Homo sapiens: one gene and its partners. The protein of the gene in region 1 interacts with the protein of each later gene in a pairwise test. Each region holds a gene or a part of one and is shown on either strand. Other genes may lie near its edges.

The links.
Region 2: the proteins of DYRK1A (region 1) and IGF2BP3 interact in binary tests that used the Homo sapiens proteins (3 or more experiments, as listed by UniProt).
Region 3: the proteins of DYRK1A (region 1) and TROAP interact in binary tests that used the Homo sapiens proteins (3 or more experiments, as listed by UniProt).
Region 4: the proteins of DYRK1A (region 1) and PRDM4 interact in a two-hybrid assay, tested with the Homo sapiens proteins (one large-scale study listed by BioGRID and IntAct).
Region 5: the proteins of DYRK1A (region 1) and FMR1 interact in binary tests that used the Homo sapiens proteins (3 or more experiments, as listed by UniProt).
Region 6: the proteins of DYRK1A (region 1) and FAM53C interact in binary tests that used the Homo sapiens proteins (3 or more experiments, as listed by UniProt).
Region 7: the proteins of DYRK1A (region 1) and IGF2BP2 interact in binary tests that used the Homo sapiens proteins (3 or more experiments, as listed by UniProt).

Annotation. Positions count from the first base shown.
Region 1 is NC_000021.9:37,492,273-37,495,772, reverse strand, and holds part of DYRK1A (dual specificity tyrosine-phosphorylation-regulated kinase 1A), read right to left. Parts: intron 2,757-3,500; coding exon 2,610-2,756; intron 1-2,609. UniProt on the Homo sapiens protein: Dual-specificity kinase which possesses both serine/threonine and tyrosine kinase activities. Exhibits a substrate preference for proline at position P+1 and arginine at position P-3.
Region 2 is NC_000007.14:23,467,692-23,471,746, reverse strand, and holds the start of IGF2BP3 (insulin-like growth factor 2 mRNA-binding protein 3), read left to right. Parts: upstream 1-1,255; 5' UTR 1,256-1,636; coding exon 1,637-1,811; intron 1,812-2,099; exon of another isoform or gene 2,100-2,171; coding exon of another isoform or gene 2,172-2,511; intron 2,512-3,204; coding exon 3,205-3,265; intron 3,266-4,055. UniProt on the Homo sapiens protein: RNA-binding factor that may recruit target transcripts to cytoplasmic protein-RNA complexes (mRNPs). This transcript 'caging' into mRNPs allows mRNA transport and transient storage.
Region 3 is NC_000012.12:49,321,836-49,326,054, forward strand, and holds the start of TROAP (tastin), read left to right. Parts: upstream 1-1,419; 5' UTR 1,420-1,514; intron 1,515-1,768; 5' UTR 1,769-1,773; coding exon 1,774-1,917; intron 1,918-2,009; coding exon 2,010-2,202; intron 2,203-2,311; exon of another isoform or gene 2,312-2,319; coding exon of another isoform or gene 2,320-2,439; exon of another isoform or gene 2,440-2,553; intron 2,554-2,656; exon of another isoform or gene 2,657-2,741; intron 2,742-3,665; coding exon 3,666-3,823; intron 3,824-3,911; coding exon 3,912-4,049; intron 4,050-4,219. UniProt on the Homo sapiens protein: Could be involved with bystin and trophinin in a cell adhesion molecule complex that mediates an initial attachment of the blastocyst to uterine epithelial cells at the time of the embryo implantation.
Region 4 is NC_000012.12:107,747,638-107,751,137, reverse strand, and holds part of PRDM4 (PR domain zinc finger protein 4), read left to right. Parts: intron 1-3,500. UniProt on the Homo sapiens protein: May function as a transcription factor involved in cell differentiation.
Region 5 is NC_000023.11:147,928,919-147,932,418, reverse strand, and holds part of FMR1 (fragile X messenger ribonucleoprotein 1), read right to left. Parts: intron 2,472-3,500; coding exon 2,378-2,471; intron 2,292-2,377; coding exon 2,175-2,291; intron 1-2,174.
Region 6 is NC_000005.10:138,341,266-138,344,765, reverse strand, and holds part of FAM53C (protein FAM53C), read right to left. Parts: 5' UTR 3,431-3,500; coding exon 3,353-3,430; intron 2,958-3,352; coding exon 2,900-2,957; intron 1-2,899.
Region 7 is NC_000003.12:185,642,630-185,644,836, forward strand, and holds the end of IGF2BP2 (insulin-like growth factor 2 mRNA-binding protein 2), read right to left. Parts: 3' UTR 501-2,207; downstream 1-500.

The DNA of each region.
Region 1 (3,500 bases):
TCACCCAGGCTGGAGTACAGTGGTGCACTCAGAGCTCACTGCAGCCTTGACCTCCTCCCAGGCTCAAGTGATCCTCTCACCTCAGCTTCCTGAGTAGCTGGGACTACAGGCATGTACCACCATGCCCGGCTATTTGTTTTTTAGATGGAGTCTCGCTCTGTCACCCAAGCTGAAGTGCGGTGGCGCAATCTCGGCTCACTGCAACCTCCACCTCCCAGGTTCAGGCAATTCTCCTGCCTCAGCCTCCTGAGTAACTGGGACTACAGGCATATTTTTCAGTAGAGACAGGGTTTCACCATGTTGGTCAGACTGGTCTTAAACTCTTGACCTCAAATGATCTGTCCACCTTGGCCTCCCAAAGTGCTGGGATTACAGGTGTGAGCCACCGTGCCCGGCCCCATGCCCAGCTAATTTTTAAAAGTTTTTGTGGAGATGGGGTTTTACCATGTTGCCTATGCTAGTCTCAAACTCCTGGGATAAAGCAATCCTCCCACCTTGACCTCCCAAAGTGCTGGGATTACAGGCGTGAGGTACGGCACCCAACCCAGTTTTCAGAGCATGTTAAATAACCACACACACACACACACACACACACACACACACACACACACACACACACAAAATCCCAGAGGCTTAATAAAGTATGGACCTAATAAAGTACTTTTTTAAGTACTTTAAATGAGTGTGCCTATTATATGCTAGGAACCATATTCAGTGGTAGAAAATAATAAACAAAACATAAAAATTCCTGCCAAAAAGAAGTTTATGTTATAGTGGGAAGACAGCAAATACATATACACACAAACACACAATTTTTTTTTTTTTTTAATGGAGTCTTGTTCTGTCTCCCAAGCTAGAGGGCAGTGGCGTGATCTCGGCTCACTGCAAGCTCTGCCTCCTGGGTTCAAGCCATTCTCCTGCCTCAGCCTCCCAAGTAACTGGGATTACAGGCACGCAACACCACACTAGGCTAATTTTTCTATTTTTAGTAGAGACGGGGTTTCACCATATTGGCAGGGCCAGTCTCGAACTCCTGACCTCAAGTGATCTGCCTGCTTCAGCCTCCCAAAGTGCTGCGACTACAGGTGTGAGCCACTGCGCCCGGCATTATCAATAAATAATTAAATACATGATGTCAGATGCTGGCTAAGAACTATGGGATGAGGAGAAGGGGTACTGCAACCGTAAGTGGGGTATATGGTTTCACCGAGAATGTGACATCAGAGCAAACACTAACATCAGCAAAGGAGTATCTCAGAAAAGAGCATTTTAGGCACAGGAAGGAAGAAATACAAAGGGCTATGGGCCTGTAGCTGGCGTTTTCAAGGGACCACAGAGTGAGGGGAGAAGGAGAGACCAGGTGGTGGTGAGAGAACTGGCATCAGAGGAAGTAGGAATCTGTGGGTTACTCAAAGGACCTCGGCCTTTACAATGAGTAACATGGCAAAGTTTTTTTAATATTGTTTAAGCCCAAGAAAGATACTAATTTACACAGTAAGATTTATACTAAAAAAAAAAACAAACTATGACAGTTACTATAAAAGAGTAGCTCACCAGTTCAAGTTGAAATGAATTAAAAGGGGCTGGGCACAGTGGCTCACGCCTGTAATCTCAGCACTTTGGGAGGCTGAGACGGGCAGACCACTTGAGGTCAGGAGTTCGAGAGCAGCCTGGCCAACATGGTGAAACATCAACTCTAGTAAAAATCCAAATATTAGCCAGGCATAGTGGCGCTTGCCTGTAATTCCAGCTACTCGGGAGCCAAGATTGCCCCACTATACTCCAGCCTGAGTGACAGAGCAAGACTCCATCTCCGGGAAAAAAAAAAAAAAAAAAAAAGAAGAATTAAAAGGAAGGATGGAAGAAACAAGTTTCTGACACCACCTATTAACAGCTGTGTAATCCGGTACAAGTCATTAATGCCTTTGGCCTTTCTCTTCTCATTTATAAATAGACTGATCAAGACGTGCAAATTGTCAATTTTTCTTTTAAAAAACAAACAAAACCCCACAGGTGTAGTTTTTAAAACAATGAAAGTCTAATTTCTCTGACTGCAGGGAAGTTAAGGCCTGTCCCTGCCCTCCCATTCACTGCCTCTGACCTTGAAAAATCTTCCAGAACACAGACTGAAAACCTGTAGACTTCAGAACTGCACACAGTCTCTGTAGCCCTACAAGTCTATAATCTCGTTTACTCTACATTATTCAGACTGAGTATCCATCAGTCCTACTGATCATTACTCTTCAACTCCAAATCATAATCTCAAAATTTAGAGTGATGTTTGTATCACTCTTCAGGATGGCCTTCATTCTTTATCATCTTTAAGCTTTCTGTATTGTATTTAAAACCTGTAAAATGTATGCCAAAATACTTAACACTTTCTAACTGTTCTCCTTCATGAGTAGATTAAAATATCCTACTCCTATCTCATAATTCTAAACTTACATGACAACTGACAAATATGAAAAATAGGTATATTCAAACTGACCTCACATTTGAATGATTAAGTAGACATCTTTGCCTAAAAACAACTTTTAAATTACACTGTCACAGATGAAAGACAAAAAGAAATTATGAAAACAGAATTTGTAAAGCAATACATCATTTACCTCATTGGCACCACTGAACAGAGGTTCTCCAGTGTGCATTTCAACCAAAATACACCCGAGGGACCACATATCAATGGCAAGGTCATAAGGCATTCCCAGTAGCACCTCTGGAGACCGATAAAAGCGACTCTGAATATACTGGTATATCTGAAATATATTTCAAAATAGTATTACTTCAATTGCTTAAAACTGCAGTCAGCATTGGATTAAAAACATTGATCTGATATTAACAGAAAAGAATTGGCTAATTCCTGAATTAGGGTTCCATTGATTAACTTCAACATTAGACTACGAATACGGCTTAAAGAACTAAACATTTTGAGGGATTGGTTAATCTGACTGTGAAATGCATAATACGTAAAGATTCAAGCCCTTTCATTTAGTCTAATCCTACCTAGTCATCATGATATTTCTTAAAACAATTATGCCTCACTAGGAAAAAAAAAACACTATTGAAAGCAATGTATTTCCCTAATAATTATTTCTTCCTACTATGGCTGGCACTTAGTTTACCACTAACTTTACAACTAAATAGTATTTAAATTAACCCAAACAATGTATTTCTCAGCGTTAAAAGTCAAGTAACTTCAATATAATATAATTTAAAATTCAGATATTTGTACTCTTGCTGTCTCACAGATAAATCCCAGAAACACTGCCACATAAAGATTCAATTGAGAGCTGTCTCTGACCAATAGCTTCTTCTCTCATCTTCTCTCTCTACCTCCATCCAAGACTTCTTATAGAAAGACAATCCTGAAATGGACTATTTTCAATGAAGTAATGTTAGGATGTCTTCAGAGACCAATTTGTTTCACTTATTAAAAGTGGAAAAGAAATAAAATCCTAACTAAATTTCCTAACACCCAAACCATGCAGCCAGAAAGCTCA
Region 2 (4,055 bases), on another chromosome or scaffold:
CACCATTGTACTCATTACATATAGAGAAAATTATGTATGGCTCTCATGGCCAAATCCAGGCAGAAAAGAGGCAGAAAGAGACTCGAACAATTTTTCAAATGCGAATACCACCTAGGGGTAATGCACGACGGTCTTCCAGTTTTAAGTCTCAAGTTCTCCAACTAAAATTACTTAAATAAAAGTACCAGCCTACTCCACTCCTCCCCCTTTAAAAACTACAGGAAGAGAGGGTTTCCCTTTACCGACTTTTCCCACTTTGACTTCTCTCCTCCAGCGGCCCAGGCCCCCGACGACCCCAGCCCCTAGCCAGAAACCTCCGCCCCTGCACTCCCCTCCCCCACCAGTGGCCAAGCCCGCCCCCGGCCTCATTTATCCTGGAGCCTTTTCTGAATCGCGCAACCAATGGCAAACGCGAAGCCGAGAGCCACCGCGAGCGCAGGCGGAGGCGGAGGAGGTGTCGCCCAGACACCCGCCCAGGACGCTGCGGGATCCCATCCCCCACCACTCCGGGGCCGGGCCGCCCCCACTCGCGCGGTGCCCAGGGCCCGAGAAGGGCGCACGGGGTGGGGCGCGTCGCCCGCCTGTCTTGCCCCCACCCCCTGCCCCCCTCACCCACTCCCCCACCCCTCCTCGCAGCATTTCCGTCCATGCCAGCCTTAGAAACGTGCCTGCGGCTTTGCTGGGGTTACACTTCTAATGCCATTAAAGCCACCAGGCGAGTTCGGGATTGTGACTCTGGTTTTGTTGTTAATAACCTATTTTGAAAAATCGAATGATTAAAACTACGGTAACTAGCGCTGAGGAACTGCCTGTTAGTACCTCTGCCCATTTCCTCATTAAAAAAAAAAAAATCAATATTCCAGCCCTCCCTCCCAGGATCCGCCCAGACCAGATAACCCTTTACAAACTCGAGTTGTGACCGTCAGCGCCCCGCTTGGTGCCGGCTGCGGTTCCTTTAGCATTTTCCTTCTTCCTCCTCCCCCTTCTCAGAGTCCCTCTCCCAATCTCGTTTCCCCTCCCCCTCTTCCTCTCGCTCGCTTTTTTCTCCGAAACCCACTCTAATTGAGGCTCTGGGATTCCTCACGTGAGACGTTGATTTGTAGTTTGAACACGTGGCTCATTCAAAAAGCCGGACACTCGGAGCGGATTTTTTCCGCCTCCTGCGCCTTCCTCCCTCCTCCTCCTCCTCCTCTCCCCTCCCTCCTGCCAGTCACCCTTCTGGGTTTTTTATGGGGAGGCGGCGCCTGCCTCACGTAGTGTGATATTTTCACAGTCCGCTGGCCGAAGCCAAAGGGGTTGGGAAGGAAGAGACAAAAAGTAGTTTTTTCCCCTCCTCCTCCTCCTTTCTCTTGCTAATCCCGCCTCCTCCTAAGACTTAGGAAGACTGGTGGATGCGTTTGGGTTGTAGCTAGGCTTTTTCTTTTCTTTCTCTTTTAAAACACATCTAGACAAGGAAAAAACAAGCCTCGGATCTGATTTTTCACTCCTCGTTCTTGTGCTTGGTTCTTACTGTGTTTGTGTATTTTAAAGGCGAGAAGACGAGGGGAACAAAACCAGCTGGATCCATCCATCACCGTGGGTGGTTTTAATTTTTCGTTTTTTCTCGTTATTTTTTTTTAAACAACCACTCTTCACAATGAACAAACTGTATATCGGAAACCTCAGCGAGAACGCCGCCCCCTCGGACCTAGAAAGTATCTTCAAGGACGCCAAGATCCCGGTGTCGGGACCCTTCCTGGTGAAGACTGGCTACGCGTTCGTGGACTGCCCGGACGAGAGCTGGGCCCTCAAGGCCATCGAGGCGCTTTCAGGTGGGCCCGGGCCTGGCCCCACCCGGGCTCTCGCCCCAGCCCTGCACCGCCCGCCCAGGCCCACCGGGTGGCTCCGCGGGCCCCAGGCCCGGCGCGCTGGGGGAGCGGGGGTGAGGCCTGAGCGCCCACACCCACGCGCGTGGGGGCCGGGGCTCTCCTCAGCTCCGGCTCCCACTCCGGCCCGCGGCTCTGCTTCCCCGGCCGGGGTTTGCTGGGTGAGGGCGAACGCGCTGTCAAGAAAGCCCCGGCGCTGGCTAAGGGGGGCGCGGGGCTGGGGGAGGCGCGCTCCCCCGGCGCCCCGCCCGGGCCCAGGCGCGTGCTCCAGGCCCCGGCACGCTGGGCCTCGGGGGCCGAGCTAGAATGCCCGCCTGTGCCTCGTTCCTTCCTGCTTTCCTCGGTCGTTATTTACGGCGCTGTCTGTGCTGCGCCCCGAAACCCCCGGCCGTGGAGAACGGAAAGTGGCCTCGACCGTGCTGCCGAGTGAGACCGCGAGGCTGGTGCCTCGCACAGGCGGCCCCGCGCTTCCTCCCCACCCTGTGGGAGGAGAGAGTGTGTGCCCGGTTTCCCCGTTCCACCTCCCCTGGTCCGACGAGCGATAGGGGCAGGTGGGCGGGGGCGGCTGGTCGCCTGGAAGGGAGTCGCCGCCACGCACCGGCCGCCCGCCGCTCTCCGGGCCCTGGCGCGGGGCTGCGGCCTCCGGGTATGGCTCCGCCAGGGCGAGGGACGGTGCCGGGCGGAGCAGGACGCCCAGGGGGAAGGCTGCGTTGGGGTCCCCATGGGAGCCCCGTGCCTTTCGGCTTCCCTTTTAATCAATTCAGACGTGGTGCGGGCGCCTCGCCGTCCTTCGCGCCTGGTTCAGCCTGTGCCGAGCTGCGCCTCTGCCAGTTCTCCCGTTCGTGGTCTCCCCTGCCGTCCCCGACCCTTTCTCGCCACTCCCTGTCTTCCTCAAGCCCACCGCTGAGTGTTCCCGGCGGGTCTGGGCTGAAGCAGAGGGCAGGGCCAGGGCGCCCCCTCCTGAAGAAAGCCAGGGGAGCCCCCTGCCCCGAGTCTGCCCTGTGGAGCGTGTCCAGGGCGGTGAGAGGGTGGGCCGCGTCCCTCTTGCGGGCCTCGTGGTGTTGGTGGCCCCCAGGGGTGGGTGGGGGAGGCTTGGAGACTGGACTGATACCCAAGTAGTGGGCCCGCCAGCGGACCCTGCTCCCCAACCATCTGCGAGTTAAATGCCCACGCCGCTCGAGGGGGTCGGCTTCTCCCTCCGCCTGGAGCCGCGTCCGGGCCTCGGGGGCCCTTCGAGGGCCTCAGGAGGCCATTTGTGTCGCCGCTTGGGCTGTGCGGGTCTTCGGGCAGGGAGAGCCGCTGAACTCGGCCGACCGTCTCACTTCTTGTGTGTCCGCAGGTAAAATAGAACTGCACGGGAAACCCATAGAAGTTGAGCACTCGGTCCCAAAAAGGCAAAGGTGAGCTGCTGCTTCTGTTTGCCCCGATTCTGTTCTCACTCCGTTATTGGGTGGAGAGACTCAGCTGAGAACTTCTTGTCCTCTGGTGCTTACCCCCTGCCGTGTGGCGTGGTGTTCCGGTCTTTAATCCTTGCTTTTAAGTTTATGGCGGGGGTGTGTGTGTTGATGATGCTGGGCAGGAATTGAAAGCTTTTCTGTGGCCTCTGCCGCGGGATTATGGTTATTGGTTACAAAATCTCTCGAAAGCTCACAGCTGAATGTCCTCGGTCCGAGCGGGTCAAATTGCTCCTACGGGAAATGGGTCCCAACAAGCAGTTTGGGGGGTTTGCAGGGCTTGGGAAGCAGCGGATGATTCCCCCACCCCTCCAGGAGCAGGAGAGGCGAAAGCAGCTGCGGACACGCGGGGGTCCCTCCTTTCCTTCTCTGTCCGGGGTTGGGAGGCCGTGGGCGCGGCCGAGTGGAGAGGAATTTGCCTCTGCCCTGTGAGCTCGCCAGGGGTATTGGAACGCGTGCGTAAACGCTGGGGCCTCTCTGGCCCAGAAGTGCCTTTGAGTCACTCCGAAGTTCTACAGGTTCCTGCAGTCAGCACCTTTGTCTCCCCGCTTTCCACCCCACTCCTCCTGGGTACATTTTTGCTTACAACCACCAAAAGATGAAGACAGGAAGATTCGTACTACTTAAGGACGGGGATTTCTCGTCTCCGAGATCATGTGTGTAGTATGTCGCTTTACAGAATGTTTATAGACTGTTTTAGCCTCTGAAGCATTTTGGAGACATGGCTCTTTCCCTT
Region 3 (4,219 bases), on another chromosome or scaffold:
TGGTGGCAGGCACCTGTAGTCCCAGCTACTTGAGAGGCTGAGGTTCCCACCTCAGGAGGCCGAGGCTGCGGTGAGCTGAGATCGCACCACTGCACTCCAGCCTGGGCGACAGAGTGAGACCCTGTCCCAAAAATGCATAAATAGTAAAACTAGTGAGAGTGAATGAGAGATGGGATATGTAAAGGGAGTGGGAGGAGTTAAGGAGTAACTCCTCGGTTTCTGGCTTGTGTAAGAATAACTTCTGTGATTGGTGGGGAAAATCCACCAGAGTTCTGTTAAGTGTTGTTCATTTCCTGTCCCCCGTTAGGGGTTACCCCTTCCATCTTAAGCAGGATATTCTAGGATCTCTCAGTCTCACAGCCTTGCCCACCAATAACCAGCAGGTGAGCCCCCTCTCCCCAGACCTCTAGATCTGCAAAAGGCAACCTGGAGGCAAGGAAATCCCCAGCTGTGAGTAGCCATTCAATTCTGGTGCTGTGGTAACTGAGTTCAAAAACAATGAGTCTTGTTACCTACCCGTAAAATGAAAGACACCTCATCAGACACCTCACTGGATTGTGAGGCTCCAAGGAGCACACATATTGTTAGGCTCAGTTCGATTCCCTCCAGCCCTCTCCGCCCGTTTGAAGGCAGTTCCTTATCCCGGAGACAACGTACAGATGTTCTCTCTTTCCCTCTTTATTTTTTTTAAGACAGGGTCTCTGTTGCCCAGGCTGGAGTGCAGTGGCGCGACCACAGCTCACTACAGCCTCAACCTCCTGGGCTCAACACGATCCTCCTGCCTCAGCCTCCAGAGCGGCTGGGACTACAAGCGCGCACCACTGCACAGGGATTATTATTATTATTTTATTATTTTGTAGAGAAACGGGTGGGAGTGGTCTCGCTATGTTGCCCAGGCTGGTCTCAAACTCAGCTCAAGAGATCCTCCCGCCTCGGCGTCCCAAAGTGTTGGGATTACAGGCGCCTGCCACCGCGCCCGGACGCAGATATTTTCTATGGGCATCTGGAATGGCGTCCCCAAAGCTTGGCGCCGTGCTATGGTCAAGCCGGGTCGGGGGCTCGGGCCAGCCTTCAACACCGTTGGCAGCAATCGGAACGATCAACTGTACCCTCAGTACCGCGACCTCGCCCGGTCCTGCCAATGGCCGGCCCCTAGCCGGTCCTGAGGCCTCGCGAGAGCTCCCGTGGCTACGCCTTCCCCGGCCTCGGAACGGCCCCATCCTTCCTCTTTCCCCGCCTCCCAGCGGCGCTCCACTCTCGGATTGGCTGATTGATCCGAGTCAGTTTTTTTCCTCGCCAGAAAGCGGTTCGACAATTGGTCCTTCTTTTGGCCCCTCCTGCGATGCCCGCGGATTGGACGGCTGAGTCTGGCTACGCGGGCCTCCGCGGGAGCGCGACCGGGCCAATCAAGAGCTTGGCGTATTTTACAAACTGAGAAAGTAGCTCCAGCAGCACCCGAGAGGGTCAGGAGAAAAGCGGAGGAAGCTGGGTAGGCCCTGAGGGGCCTCGGTAAGGTAAGGCACGGGGGTCTTGAAGGGAACGAAGGCTGCTGGGTTCATAGGGAGGAGGGCAGTTTGGGGCCCGAGGGCGAAAGAGTAGGCTCGGGGTGTCTGGAGATAGCACCCATAAGAGCGGTCTTGCAGGCGCCGGGGGCTTGTGGGCGCGTGGATTAGGGCGGAGGTATCAGGGATGGCAGGACAGGTGCCCCGAGAACTGGTTGATCTTTGATCTTAGATTCTGCCTGCCTTCTTCCCCGTCTCAATTGTAGCCATCATGACCACCCGGCAAGCCACGAAGGATCCCCTCCTCCGGGGTGTATCTCCTACCCCTAGCAAGATTCCGGTACGCTCTCAGAAACGCACGCCTTTCCCCACTGTTACATCGTGCGCCGTGGACCAGGAGAACCAAGATCCAAGGGTAAGAGGGGCCTAATGGGGGAAGACAGTAGTCACACCAGTAATGCACCCCAACACTAAACCTCACCTTTTTGTCCCCGCTCCCTCCCCTAGAGATGGGTGCAGAAACCACCGCTCAATATTCAACGCCCCCTCGTTGATTCAGCAGGCCCCAGGCCGAAAGCCAGGCACCAGGCAGAGACATCACAAAGATTGGTGGGGATCAGTCAGCCTCGGAACCCCTTGGAAGAGCTCAGGCCTAGCCCTAGGGGTCAAAATGTGGGGCCTGGGCCCCCTGCCCAGACAGGTACCTGTTGGAGCCATGGTAACACGGCCTCCATGGCTGAGTAGGGGACTAGGAAGGGTAAAAGTGGGGTTTTGGGGTTTTGCACTCACTCCTGCTGTCTCCTACTTACTGTGATAGTCCTGGTCCCAGCTCCTGGAAAGCTCTTTGCTCTTAGAAGATCTCCCTTTCCTCCAGCAAAATGTCATCTCGCCAGGTGCCATGGCTTGTACCTGTAATCACAGCTACTCAGGAGGCTGAAGCAGGAGGATCACTGGAGGCCAGGAGTTGGAGACCAGCCTGGATGACAGAGGGAGATCCCATCTCTTTAAAAAATAAATAAATAAATAAATAATAAATATCACTTCTTCTGAAGCCTTTTCCAGTTCCCCATGTCACAATCAGTTGCTCTGTGTTCTCCTAATACTTTGCAGCACTTCTTTTATAACATGTATATACCTTGGCTTGAGTCTGTTACCTGTCTATAGTTTGATGATAGCCTCTTGAGGATAGGGGCTTTGTCTTATTCTTATGGGACCCCAGTGCTTAGAATAGTGTCTTATGTAACATTCTATGAACATTTGGTGACCAGGTGTGGTGGCTCACGCCTGTAATTCCAACACTCCTCCGAGGCAGGAGGATCATTTGAGCTCAGGAGTTTGAGACCAGCCTAGGCAACATAGTGAGACCCCATCTCTTTTTCTCTTTTTTTTTTTCTTTTCTTTTTTTTTTGTGGAGACAGAGTCTTACTCTATCCCTCAGGCTAGAGTACAGTGGCATGATCTCGGCTCACTGCAACATCCACCTCCCAGGTTCAAGCGATTCTCATGCCTCACCCCGAGTACCTGGGATTACCAGCACCTGCCACCACACCCAGCTAATTTTTGTTTTCTTTCTTTTTTTTTTTTTTTTTTTTGAGACAGAGTCTCACTCTGTCACTAAGCTGGAGTGCAGTGGCACGATCTTGGCTCATTGCAACCTCCACCTCCCAGGTTCAAGTGATTCTCCAGCCTCAGCCTCCTGAGTAGCTGGTACTACAGGCGCGCGCCACCAGGTCCAGCTAATTTTTTTTTGTTTTTGTTTTTTGTAGAGATGGGGTTTTACCATGTTGGCCAGGCTGGTCTCAAACTCCTGACCTCAGGTGATCCACCTGCCTCAGCCTCCCAAAGTGCTGGGATTACAGGAGTGAGCTACCGCACCCAGCCAATTTTTGTATTTTTTTAGTGGAGACAGGGTTTTGCTATGTTGGCCGGGTTGGTCTCAAACTCCTGACCACAGGTGATCCACCCGCCTCGGCCTCCCAAAGTGCTGGGATTACAGGCATGAGCCACTGCACCCAGCCATCTATTTCTTAAAAAAAAAAAAAAAAATAAGCCAAATTCAATTGAATGAGTCTCTTGCTCACCTTGTACCTCAAAGTTCCTATGCTAGGGGCCCTATCCCCCTCAGCCTTCCCCCTTCCTTTTCCTTCTCCTCTTTCCTTGCAGAGGCTCCAGGGACCATAGAGTTTGTGGCTGACCCTGCAGCCCTGGCCACCATCCTGTCAGGTGAGGGTGTGAAGAGCTGTCACCTGGGGCGCCAGCCTAGTCTGGCTAAAAGAGTACTGGTTCGAGGAAGTCAGGGAGGCACCACCCAGAGGGTCCAGGTAATGAAACAGGATGTGAGGAGACCAGGCTAGGGGGCACTGAGGGGGGCATCCTGAGCAGTGCTGACAGCCTCTGTTGGTGTCCCAGGGTGTTCGGGCCTCTGCATATTTGGCCCCCAGAACCCCCACCCACCGACTGGACCCTGCCAGGGCTTCCTGCTTCTCTAGGCTGGAGGGACCAGGACCTCGAGGCCGGACATTGTGCCCCCAGAGGCTACAGGCTCTGGTGAGTGCCCTTGAGGGGCTGATAGTCGGTGCTTCTGGGAGCTCCTTCCAGGGACAAAGCTGGGCTCTGGGAGAAGAGGTACCTCATGATGAGGCAAGGGATCCTACTGGGGGAGATGGGGTTGGTGGTGAGGCCTGAGGGTTTGGGGTCCACCTCTGATTCCGTTTTCA
Region 4 (3,500 bases), on another chromosome or scaffold:
CGGTAGTGTGTGCCTGTAGTCCCAGCTATTCTGGAGGCAGAGGCAGGAGGTTGCTTGAGCCCAGGAGTTTCAGGCTATAGTGTTCTGTGATCCCACCTGTGAATAGTCCCAGCTATTCTGGAGGCTGAGGAAGAGGGTTGCTTGAGCCCGGGAGTTTCAGGCTATAGTATGCTGCGATCACACCTGTGAATAGTACTGCACTCCGGCCTGGGCAACAAAGTGAGACCCTGTCTCTAAAAAACAATCATAGTGATAATACAATATTTTTTTAAAAAAGGTAAGTTTAGCCCAGTAATAGTTAAGGTATTTCCCAAGGTTTCACAAATAGAGAGTTATAGGGGTAAATTCTAGTAAAGCTGTTTGTGACATGCCTTGTGAAAATTATTCAGTCACTTTTATAACCCCATGGAAAAATGTAGGTGGATATAAACCAATTTTTTTCTTTGCTCAGAGTGCATATAAATTATTATTCTTGGGCGTGTAAAAGTTTTTCTTATTGGGCAACAACAACAAAAAACAATATAAAAACAGTTGATTTACTGGTGTCACTGTGTTTCATTCATGCAGGAAACATGTTGAGTGCTTATTTTAATTTATTGATAGGGTTTCTCTGTCGCCCAGGCTAGGGTGCAGTGGTGCGATCACGGCTCACTGTAGCCTCGACCTCCTGGGCTCAAGTGATCCTCCCACTTTAGCCTCCCGAGCAACTGGGACCCCAAGTGTGTACCACCACACCTGGCTAATTTTTAAATTTTTTGTAGAGATGGGGGTCTCACTGTGTTGCCTTGGCTGGTCTTGAACTCGACTCAAGCAATCTTCCTGCTTCAGCCTCCCAGAGTGCTAGGATTACAGGTGTGAGCCATCATGCTGGGCTTTTTAGTGCTTACTATGTGGCAGCCTCTGCTAGATGCTAGGGATAGAACGATCTACCAAGAGACAGTATGTGTACATACCTTTAAGGAGCTTACAGTCTGGTAGGAAGCATAGGAGACTGTTACAATATAGGATAATAATAAGTGTGACGATGGGGTGAAGTGCATTGGTACTAAAGTAGCCTGAAGGGGAGCAACTAGCCAGGCCATGGAAGGGTCGGGGAAGATTTAACCAAGGGAAGTAACATACATGTTAGCACAGACCTTAAGGACAAGAAAGATGTGGGCAGTTGAGAGTCAGGAAGACAGGAGCTGGCACCTGTAAGTGCCTAGAACCAAAAGAATCATGAGTGTTTCAGAATTGCTGAAGCATAAAATGAGGGTGAAGAGAGGGGTCATGTGGTGAGAGGAGAAGTAGGAGCCAGAACACAAAGGCTCTTTTAAGACCGGTCAAGAGTTTTAGGGAGTGAGGGTTGGGGTAGGGCTTTGCTGCAATGTGAGAATAAATTTGTTAAGAGGCAAGGAGGTGTGGAAGATATCATAATTTATGGGAAAGGTGATGATTCTCACCAATCTAGAGTAGAGGTAATTAGGATGCAGAAGAGTGGAGGACATTTGCAGAGAACCCAGTTGAGCTTATCGATTGGATAAAGTTGGAGGAGGGAAGCATTAAGGAGAAAACCCTGGTTTCTGGCTTCTGAAACTAGGTAGATAGAAACTAGGTAAGTAGAGAAGGCCATGTGTTGGCTCACACCTGTAATCCCAGCACTTTGGGAGGCTGAGGCAGAAAGATCATTTGAGACCAGGAGTTCAAGATCAGCCTGGGCAGCATAGTGAAACCCTGTCTCAGGAAAAAAAAAAAAAAAAAAGCAAACAGAAACTAAGTAGGTAGGGTAGTAGTGAAAGGCAGAGGAGGATATGATTTTGATTTTTATTATTTTGGGAGGAGTGACGATGAGTCAAGTTTTAGACATGTTGATTTCAGTGTCTGTAAGACACCCAGTAGAGATGTCTAATGAAAAGTTGTGTGTGGACCTGAGAGAGATCTGTCTGGAAATATTTAAGAATCATCAACATTAAGATGTTATTTGTGGCTGTAGAAGTGGAATGAAATCATCTAGTAAGAGTGTGGACTGAGAAGAGGGCTAGGGATATCAAGATATAGCAGAAGAGGAGCTTCCAAATAGACTCAACGGGAGCATCAAAAATAGGAGGAAGCCCAGAACCATTCTGTGCCACAAAATCCAGCCCATGGAGAGACTAGTTTTAACCTTTTAAAGTCTCAAATTTAGAGTTTTAAAATGTTTTAATCGAAGAATGTAATGAATATAAGGCTAATTTAGCAGAAGGTAGGAGGTGGCCTAAATAAGCTTATTGATTTTTTTCTTAAGAGGGCAAATGGAACCTCTTCTAAGTGTGTGTGGTTTATAATGAGATATAATTTATGTATACATTTTAAACGTGCAATTTAGTGGTTTTTTTGGTGTATTTACAAGGCTGTGCAACCACCACCACTGTCTCCTTCCAAAACATTTTAGTCACCCGGTAAAGAAACTTCATAACCATTAGTCACTTCCCATTCCCTCCTTCCGCGTATTCTCAGCAACCACTAATCTACTTTCTGTCTCTATGGATTTGCCTTTTCCAGATATTTCATATAAATGGAATCATGCGATACTTGGCCTTCTGGATCTAGTTTCTTTCTCTTCGCATAATACTGTTCTGTCTCATCCATGTTGTAGCATGTATTTGTACTTCATTTCTTTTTAGAGCTGAATAATCTGTAATATGGATATACCACATTTTGTTTATCCATTTATCAGTTGATGGACATTTGGGTTGTTTCTGCTTTTTGGCTACTATGAATAATGCTGTTATGAACTCTCATGTACAAGTTTTTGTGTGAACATCTGTTCTTGGATATTTAGGAGTAGAATTGCCGTATGTTTAACTTTTTGAGGAACTGCTTTCCAAAGTGGCTGTGCCATGTTACCGTCCTAGCAGCAGTGGATGAGGGTTCTAATTTCTCCACATTTTTGCCAACAGTTAATTTTTTATTTTTATTTATTTATTTTTTTATTTTTTTGAGACAGAGTCTGGCTCTGTCACCCAGGCTGGTGTGCAGTAGCGCAATCTCAGCCTCACTGCAACCTCCACCTCCCGGGTTCAAGCCATCCTTCCACCTCAGCCTCCCCAGTAGCTGGGACTACAAGTGCTCGCCACCATGCCTGGCTGATTTTTTGTATTTTTGGTAGAGACGATTTGCCGTGTTTCTACCTGGTCTCATGCGTTCGAGACCAGCCTAGGCAACATGGCAAAACCCTGTCTCTAGCAAAAGTATTAAAAAATCAGCCAGACGTGGTGGTGCATGCCTGTGGTCCCAGCTACCCAGCAGGCTGAAGCAGGAACGCCACTGCACTCCAGCCTTGGTGACAGATCGGGACCCCGTCTTAAAAAAAAAAAGAAAAGACAGATAGATGACTGTGGTTCTAAGGTTTATGTATTCCAACTATTTTGTGAATGGTTGTGGAGTTTAAATGTAATGATTGAGTAATAGTATCATAAATACTGTTCCTTAGCAGAGTGGAAAGTGTAAAGAATAGAGCAGAAGATTTACGGAGGAGGACA
Region 5 (3,500 bases), on another chromosome or scaffold:
AGAAATGGACGTCTGATGAATACACTTTATCAACTATTACGACAACTGTATTTAGGCCAGCCATGTAAATTATCTTGACCCTGTATATGAGGGGTCCATAAATTATTAATAGTTTTAGGTTAAAACTAACAGGTTTTAGAAAATACCTCTCACAGCCTAAGTACTTTTTAGGTTACTAAAGGTCTATGACATTTTATATGTTTTTGTTAATAGGAAAGAACTTGTTGACATTTTCCAAGGTAACTGCTGAAAACTTATCACAAGGCTGCCTTAGTTAACCAATGACATCAGCAATATAATAACTAAGAAGCAGGTCAAATGTTCCCCAGTAAAAACCAGCTCACTCGGTCTGACAAACTCAATGTTACTTATTTAGGTAAAAAAATGTTTAAATATCATCTTTATAGAAAATTTTATTCGCTTCATTTTTATTAAAAGGTATCAGTATATATTTTCTGGAAACAGTGCCATTTTTTATAACATCATTAGGTACTGTGGTCTAAACATTCCTCTGTTGAAATGACATTAAAATGACACCTCCCTCAAAACCTAAGGAATCAAAAATTGTTGGTACAGTAGTTAAACTGAATAATCAAAAAATGTCAAAAATTAAAAACTTAGTAAGCATCTGAAAGCTAACATGAGACCAGAGTCCGTAAGACCTTGTGATCTGGATCCACAATTATGATGAGCACTTGTAAATATCCAGTGATGACGAAACTAAGTTACACTGACATCCCAAACTTGTGGATAACCACTGTCTTTAAATACCATTATCAAAATTTAGTGTTCAGTTCTAGCATGCCATTAATGAAAACCAAACGTATTAGTGGCTCATGTTGAAAAATGGGAATTTCTTATAGGAACATGTAAATCTCTTTAATATTAGTAGTGAAGAAAGATAGGCATGCATACTAGTTTCTCATTGTTCAACAGACCTGATAATTTGAATGAATGAATACAACTAGCATAAATAATTTAAAAGTGCAATACCCATTTTTTTTAGACTAGAGTAATAAAATCTATAAAATAATTCTAGGACTTTTCAAGAAGTCATGTTTTTTGAGTCCTGGTTCATTAATCTGGTTCGTTCTTTTTCATTGATAATTCACTGATAAATGGTTAGCCAAAAGTATGATAGATCATTTAAGAATAATTCGATGTTTAAGAGGCATATGAGTATATTTTCATAATACTCACAATCAAAGTAAGGAGGCAGCTCTGGGCTAAAAGTTATGAGAGAATCACTGAAGGAACCACAAAATCATGAACACAGGGACATCAAGAAAGAATGAGAGCAAAGACCAATTAAACAGACCTCCATGGCCTTAAGAAAAAACAAAGTGGCAAAAGGAGATTAAACTTTTCCCCTTCTGCTAAGAGTTCAGCATCATACATCAAGTTGACAGGTGGCAAATTTCACAGGGTTTTTATAAGAACACAGTCTTGACTACCTTTTCTCCTAAAATGCAGTTTGGAACTCCTTTTTTTCTTTACTATTTCAAATGTGTGGTGTTTTCCTTCTAATGAATAATGATGACGAACTCTGGAATTTGACAGGAATATAGTAGAGCTGGCACATTCATCTAAGATCCACTTAGTTTCTATAGTAATGGATGGACGTACTTGATAGTTATCAATGAAAACAAATATATGGTGATGAAAATTATTGGAGGATTAATAAAAGTAGATAAAATGCACCTTAAGAGACAAAATAGTAAGTTAGGGAAATAGCCTCTGGCGGGAATCTGAAGACAGGAGTTTTAAAGAATGACAACCAATTAGAATGAAGAAGTTCTATACCCTTTTAAACAAAGATAAACATACATAATGAGAGGAATATGATTAGATATTTAAATATTCTCTAGTATTTTTAATGACAACATGTTATATGGAAGAAGCATTGCCGCATTTTATTAGCAACTTTGATAAACTTCTAGTAAAAGTGAAAGTACCAGAAGTCCCTTAATATACATAAGCTGCTGTTTAATTTTGAAACCTCAGGCATGGAAACTTTAGTATGATTATGCTTTGTACAATTTTCCAACTATAGAACCTAAGGAATTGTTAAGAAGCAGTAAATAAATGACAAGCTCCCCATATTCAAGTTGTGGAATGATACAGTTAATCGTTCCTAGGTACCCTTACAAGCAGTGCTAGGGAAAGTGACATACCTCCAGCTGCTTACTAGCTTCTTCATTTCTCATTATCAGAGACAACTTAGTGCGCAGACTCCGAAAGTGCATGTCAATCAGCATATGTGCTCGCTTTGAGGTGACTTCATTGATGGACTAAATGATTTAAATTAACAACATTATTATCAAGGCAATTGCCCCAGATGAATTAAACTAAAAATAAACAACTCAAAAATGCTCACCAAAATGACAAGCTGATAATTTTCTGGATCATAAGTTACAGAAAAGGCACCAACTGCCTTTTTAAAATCCTTATGTGCCGCCTCTTTGGCACACCTAGAAATTTAAAAAAAAAAATTAAGATGAATAATTACCAACTACTGACATAAATAAATGCAGGCAGATTTACACATACAAGAATCATGGATTCATATTAAATTTGATTTATGCAAAATATGCTATATCCATTTAGAAGCTTAGCTCCTTTTCTGTACATTTCTGAAATACAGCTTAGATTACCAAAAGAGACATATTCAGGGGAACCACTCTACACTACAGGTTTCCTGATTTCAGTTACATACAAGTCAGTAGTTTTCTTAAGTCAACTATTGAAAACTTTTGGAGATAGCTACCTACAGGGTATCTGATTTCTTTCTTCTTCTCTTGTTGCAGGCCTTTTTTTTTCCTTTTTTTTTAATTTTTAGTTTTGTGGGTACATAGTAGGTATATATATTTATGGGGCATATGAGATGTTTTGATACAGGCATGCAATATGAAATAAGCACATCACGGAGAATGGGGTAAGAAACTGCTAAACGATTTGAGGGAGAGAAGGAAACGTACATGAACCAGAAGGCACAAAAATTTACACACATACACAATCTCTAGAAAAGGGAGGATTTCTATGTATTCTGAACTGCAATTTAATGTTCAACAACATGTCCAAATCAAACGTACTGTATTCACTTAATAAAATCTGTAAAAAATAAAAATGCGTCTCTTCTATAGTCTTTAAGCATTATTCCAGATCAAGGATTGTAAGATGAGATGACTTTTTAAAGCTTCTTTGGCTCTACTTATTACACATTTATCTGAAAACATTTTAGGTAAAAGAGAAAAAAACGGAGAAATCGTTTATAGTTTGTGACTTATGACAGAATTATCACATTTGTTTGATCAGTTTTTAAATCTTAGAATGAACAAAGTTAGTTTAGAAAACAAATGTACATTATGTACATCAGACACGTGTATAGCCAAGTAAGTTTAAACAAGCGCAAGGCTGCCTTGATTCTATAAGTAGGAAAAGTTAAATAAGTTTTTTCTCCATTGCTCTTGCAAACCAAACCATTTTTGCCAAAGTCCACC
Region 6 (3,500 bases), on another chromosome or scaffold:
CCATTTGCCACATAATGTATGGAGCATTTTATGTGAAAATTTCCAAAAACCTTATGAGGTAGGTAGTATCGTTATCATTATCCCCATTTCACAGATAAGAGAAATTCAATAACTTTCCCAAAATCACATAGCACTCAAAAGACCAAAGGAGGATTCAAATCCAGGTCTGTCTGATGCGAAGGCTAGGTTTTTAAACCACTATGCTCTATTGCCTCCATTGTGACCAACTACCTGGAATCAAAAACATTTCATCTACTGCCTGCCACTCCCTCTCAAAGGTAAAAGAAGTCAAGAGAAACAAACACGTTTGTGAGTGTCCTGCTCATCTCTCCCTCGCCCCTCCCCCACGCTTGCCCTGGATGCTGAAAAGCAGGCCTATGCTCTTCTTTCTCGGCCTTTCCTCCTCTCATGTGTCAACAGCACCAAGTCAGGAGTTAGGACTGCCAAGAAGTAAGAGGTAATCAGGCAGGTAAGAGATCACTTTTATTCCTAGGGAGGGCAAACAGGGTGGGGAAGGCCTTTGACAGTGAAACCTGGGCTTGGGAAACCCTGACTTTGTGCTGCTCATCTTCGTTTCTGTCTGGCCACCCACATATTCCGATTCCCTTCCCCTAGGCCTTCTCTTAAATCCAAACAGATGGAGGGACCAAGAGAAGGAAGGGAAAATGGACTAAAAGAAACAATCCTCACTCACTGTATTCCAACCAAAATTGTGACTTTTGGGAGACGGCTCATTAAGGGACAAAGGGCCTAATCCAAACTCCTCTGGCTAGCTGGCTGGAATTCTGCAGGGGCTGGATATTTGGGGCAAACGACAAGTATACGAAGTCAGACTTGATGGTGGCAAAATTCATACTGAGTGTATTTGGTCTATAGTTCTTCCCTCTACTAACCACTATGAGGGCAGGGACCATGAGTTCCTGCTCTATACTTATGACACAATACCTGGCTTTCAGCAAGTCTTTAATAAACAGGAGGAAGAGACTGAATGAACATGTTTTTGCCAACTCACTTCCCTTGCTAGGTATCCCAGAAAAGAAAATGAGATGCAGAACTGCTGAGCAGCACGAGTTAGGGAGTTCTGATTGTCCACCAGTGATGCCTCCATCTAAATGTCCCTACGATCAGGGGCCCTTTAACTCAGTAATTAATAATCTACGAATTTATACCTCAGATATATTTTCACATGTGAAAAAATGACATATGTACAAGGTTATTCACTACAGTTTCTTTTTTCTTTCTTTTTTTTTTTTTTGAGATGGAATCTCGCTCTGTTGCCCAAGCTGGAGTGCAGTGGGTGCGATCTCGGCTCACTGCAACCTCCGCCTCCTGGATTCCAGGGATTCTCCTGCCTCAGCCTCCTGAGTAGCTGGGATTACAGGCGCCTGCCACCATGCCCAGCTAATTTTTGTATTTTTAATAGAGACGGGGTTTCACCATGCTGGCCAGGCTGGTCTCGAACTCCTGGCTTCATGCTATCTGCCCACCTCGGCCTCCCAAAGTGCTGGGATTACAGGCATGAGTCACCACGTCTGGCCCACTACAGTTTTATGTATCCAAACAAGATTAGAAATAACCTAAATGCACATCAATAGAAAACTCATTAAATAAGCCACTGTACATCTATGCAGTGTAATAATATGTAGCTATATATAACAAGGGAATGAATACTCAGCATTCTGATAGGGAAAGATCTCCTAGCTATATTAAAGTTTTTTTTGTTTTTTGTTTTTTTTTTTTTTGAGATGGAGTCTTGCTTTGTTGTGCAGGCTGGAGTGCAGTGGCATGATCTGGGCTCACCACAACCTCCACCTCCTGGGTTCAAGTGATTCTCCTGCCTTGCCCTCCCGAGTAGCTGGGATTACAGGTGTGTACCACCATGCCAGGCTAATTTTTGTATTTTTAGTAGAGACAGGGTTTCACTGTGTTGGCCAGGCTGGTCTCGAACTCCTGACCTCATGATCCGCCCACCTCGGCCTCCCAAAGTGCTAGGATTACAGGCATGAGCCACTGTGCCCAGCAATTTTTTTTTTTTTTTGAGACAGAGTTTTGCTCTTGTTGCCCAGGCTAGAGTGCAATGGCGCAATCTTGGCTCACCGCAACCTCTACCTCCTGGGTTCAAGTGATTCTCCTGCCTCAGCCTCCCGAGTAGCTGGGATTACAGGCATGCGCCACGACGCCTGGCTAATTTTATATTTTTAGTAGAGATGGGGTTTCTCCATGTTGGTCAGGCTGGTCTTGAACTCCCGACCTCAGGTGATCTGCCCACCTTGGCCTCCCAAAGTGCTGGGATTATAGGTGTGACCCACTAGGCCCGGTCCCATTTTTTTTTTTAAAGGTACAAAATAATATATAGTATGCAACCTTTTGTGTTAAAAACGTGGAAATAAAATAGATGCAGCTAACCACCATGGCACATGTACACCTATGTAACGAACCTGCACGTTCTGCACATGTATCCGAGAACTTAAAAAAGAAAGGAAATAAATATATACATTTGCTTCTTTTTATATAAAGAAATTCTAGTCACATATACTGTATAAGAAACTAATACTTTTAGGGAGGTGGTAGAAGCTGGGTAGATAGGGAACGGGAGAGTAAGAGAGACTTTTCTCAGCATAACCTTTTTGTTGTTATTTTTTAAATTTTGAACCATGTGAATGTATTACCTATTCAAAAAATTAGATTATACAAGTCCCCACAAAGCTAGAATAAGAGCAAACCAACCAGATAACTTTCATGCTAGAACATGAAAGACAACTGTCAATCTCAGAAGTTGACCCTGGCAAGAAGGTTCTAGAGGTAGGCTCGCTAGCCCTGGTCACTGGAAACCAATGATAGAAATGTGTGGAGAGAGGAATGGGTACACACACGTACACAAACACACACGATGCCTTACCAGACACAAGCTGGAAAGAGTTCCCACAGTTGGAGATGTCTGCATGATCAGGCAAAGGCTAAGAAAGAGAGAATATCCATCATGATTTGGATTCAGGACACACTGACAGATTTCTAGGAAGCCCTCTTCAGTTCTCCTCTGCGATTCATGAGCTACAGGGATGTTAGGGACATTAAGTGTTCTTCCTCTTGTCTTCCCAAAGTTAGTAAGTCAAACAATCCACATCTTCCAACATCTCAAACCCTTCTCCACCCAAGTTTTGCTGTCCCTTCTCTATCGGTGGAAAAATCCCTGCCCCCTTCCTTTTGGGCTGGGTTTTGAGCCATTAGTGGGCTCTTCCAGGTTAAGTACCATGATTCATACAGCACAGGACAAGAGTAAAGTAATAGCAACAATCAGCCTCAGAAAAAAGGGGGAGGGGGTCGTGGAGAAGCAGGAAGACTGGTCTTTTACCAGACTGATGCTGAAGCGTGTGCATTTCAGCTCATCCAGAGTCTGCTTCTGTAGCTGCTCAGTGATCAGGGTTATCATGATTCTCCCCAGGATTTGACTTGCACACTTTGGAGCAAATGATGGATGTCTTCCCTGTTGTTCTTCCAGA
Region 7 (2,207 bases), on another chromosome or scaffold:
GTCAGCAGCCATCAACATTGAGGCAAAACTCTTCACTAGCCAAGAGTACAACTTGCCTAAGGCTCGGATGATCGTTAGCATTCTTTAGCAATAAATTATTTTTAATTAAGATATGTACACTGTTGGGCCGGGCACAGTGGCTCACGCCTGTAATCCCAGCCCTTTGGGAGGCTGAGGCAAGCAGATCACGGGGTCAGGAGATTGAGACCGTCCTGGCTAACACAGTGAAGCCCCGTCTCTAGTAAAAATACAAAAAATGGCCATGTGGGGTGGCACATGCCTGTAGTCCCAACTACTCGGGAGACTGAGGCAGGAGAATTGCTTGAATACACGAGGCAGAGGTTGCAGTGAGCTGAGATCGTGCCACTGCACTCCAGCCTGGGCGACAGAGCGAGACTCTGTGTCAAAAAAAAAAAAACAAAAAAAACCCACTGTTTTAGACATAATGCTATTGTACACTTAATACAGTGTAAACATAACTCACATGCAGTGAGACACTAAAACGTGTATGACTCATTTTATTGCAAAGTTCGCTTTACTGTGGTGGTCTGGAACTGAACCTGCGACGTTCCTGAGGTATGCCTGCACTTACTAGTGAGCTTCCCGTGGAGGCGTGAAGTGCCTCTTCCCGGAACTGCCGGGCATATTATCCTCCCCCTTTCCTCCACTTAAAAAGCAGCTTTGCCTGGCCAGGCTTGCAGTTCCTTAAGGATAGACTGGTCTTCTCTAGCTTGACATGCAGTCGATCCATCCCTCTAGCTCCGAGGTTCGGAAACTTCAGTGCGCACAGCAATCACCCAGAGGCCTTGCTGAAAAGGTTGCTGGGCCTCACCCCCAGGATTTCTGATTCAAGGTGGACCCCAAGAATCTACATTTCTAACAAGTTCCCAGATGATAGCTGATGCTGCTGGTCTGGGGACTACACTTTGACCACCGATCTAGTTTAGCTTCTCCCAAAGACTTTCCTGGGCAAAACCAGCTTTCTCAGAGTAGCTGTGTGGATCCAGGTCACACCTACCGCCTGTCTGCCCAGGTCCCTCAGAGCTAGGACTCAGCTGACACCTGGGATGAGGCAATGCCTAGTAAAATAAAACACCAAGACACCAGGATCTTGTTAGCTGGATATATTTCTGTTTTTTCTTTTTTTTTCTTTTTTTTTTTTTTTTTTTTGTCACAGAACACTGTTTGCAGTAGAGGAAACTGGCATTGCAGTCTGGTGGTATAATGGCTTGTCCACATAAACCAGTACATGTTCATCCTTTAGCGCAAAAAGCCCTAATGGCGCGTACCCTATTAAAATTCAGGACATCTCCAATATTCTCTCTCTCTGTTTTTCTTTGTCATCTTTTTTTTTTTTAAATAAACATTTTCAAGGTTTGTCCAAAAGAAGGCCATATAGGTTCTTGGCTAGCGGAAGACAATTCAGAACAGCTGTTGCACACTTGGACTGTCACCTTCTCCAGGCTGGCAGTTGATATCTTATTTTTTTTCCAACTCATTTTTATTAAAAAAATAAAAAAATGCTCCAACTATCAGCTTTACAAAATCTCTAAGGGAAACACAAGAGCAAGGTGCTGAGGTAAAAACACCTGAGGTAGCTTCTTCTGTGTGTTTTTCTCGTTAAAAAAATCTGTGAATTTAACGCCCTGGGCCAACAACCTTGGTAAATTTCTACTTTCCTCCACATTTTTTTTTTTTAAAGAAAGGAATCATTTTGCTGAATATTGATGGCTTATACACCAAAATGCAAAAAGACAAAATACATTCTTTCATTGTGGAATTTTTTCTTTGTTTGGTTGATTGGTTGGTTTGGTGGGTTCCTGTTTTCCTCTTCCAAAACGCTAGGACAAGTACCATTGACTCTTGTTCTTTTGAGTAACCAAGTGTAAGTTGAGGCTGGTTTGTGTGTTTCGCTTTTGTTCCTTTTGTGTGATGTGATACTCAGAGCACTGCTTTGCCTGGGGGGGGGGGGGTGCGTAGATACGGGATTGAGATGGAGGGATGAGGAAATTCAAAAGAATGGAGATGGAGAAGAAGGGGAGGGGAGGGAGGGGAGAGATAAACAGAGAGAGACAGAGAATTATATAGCAGTATGCAAAAAACCAGTTTAAAACCTGTGAAGCAAAGAGAAATGGGTGTATGAGCTAGACAGGCATGAGGAGTGACAGAGTTTCCTCTTCAAGGAGACGGTATCCCTTCTGTTGACA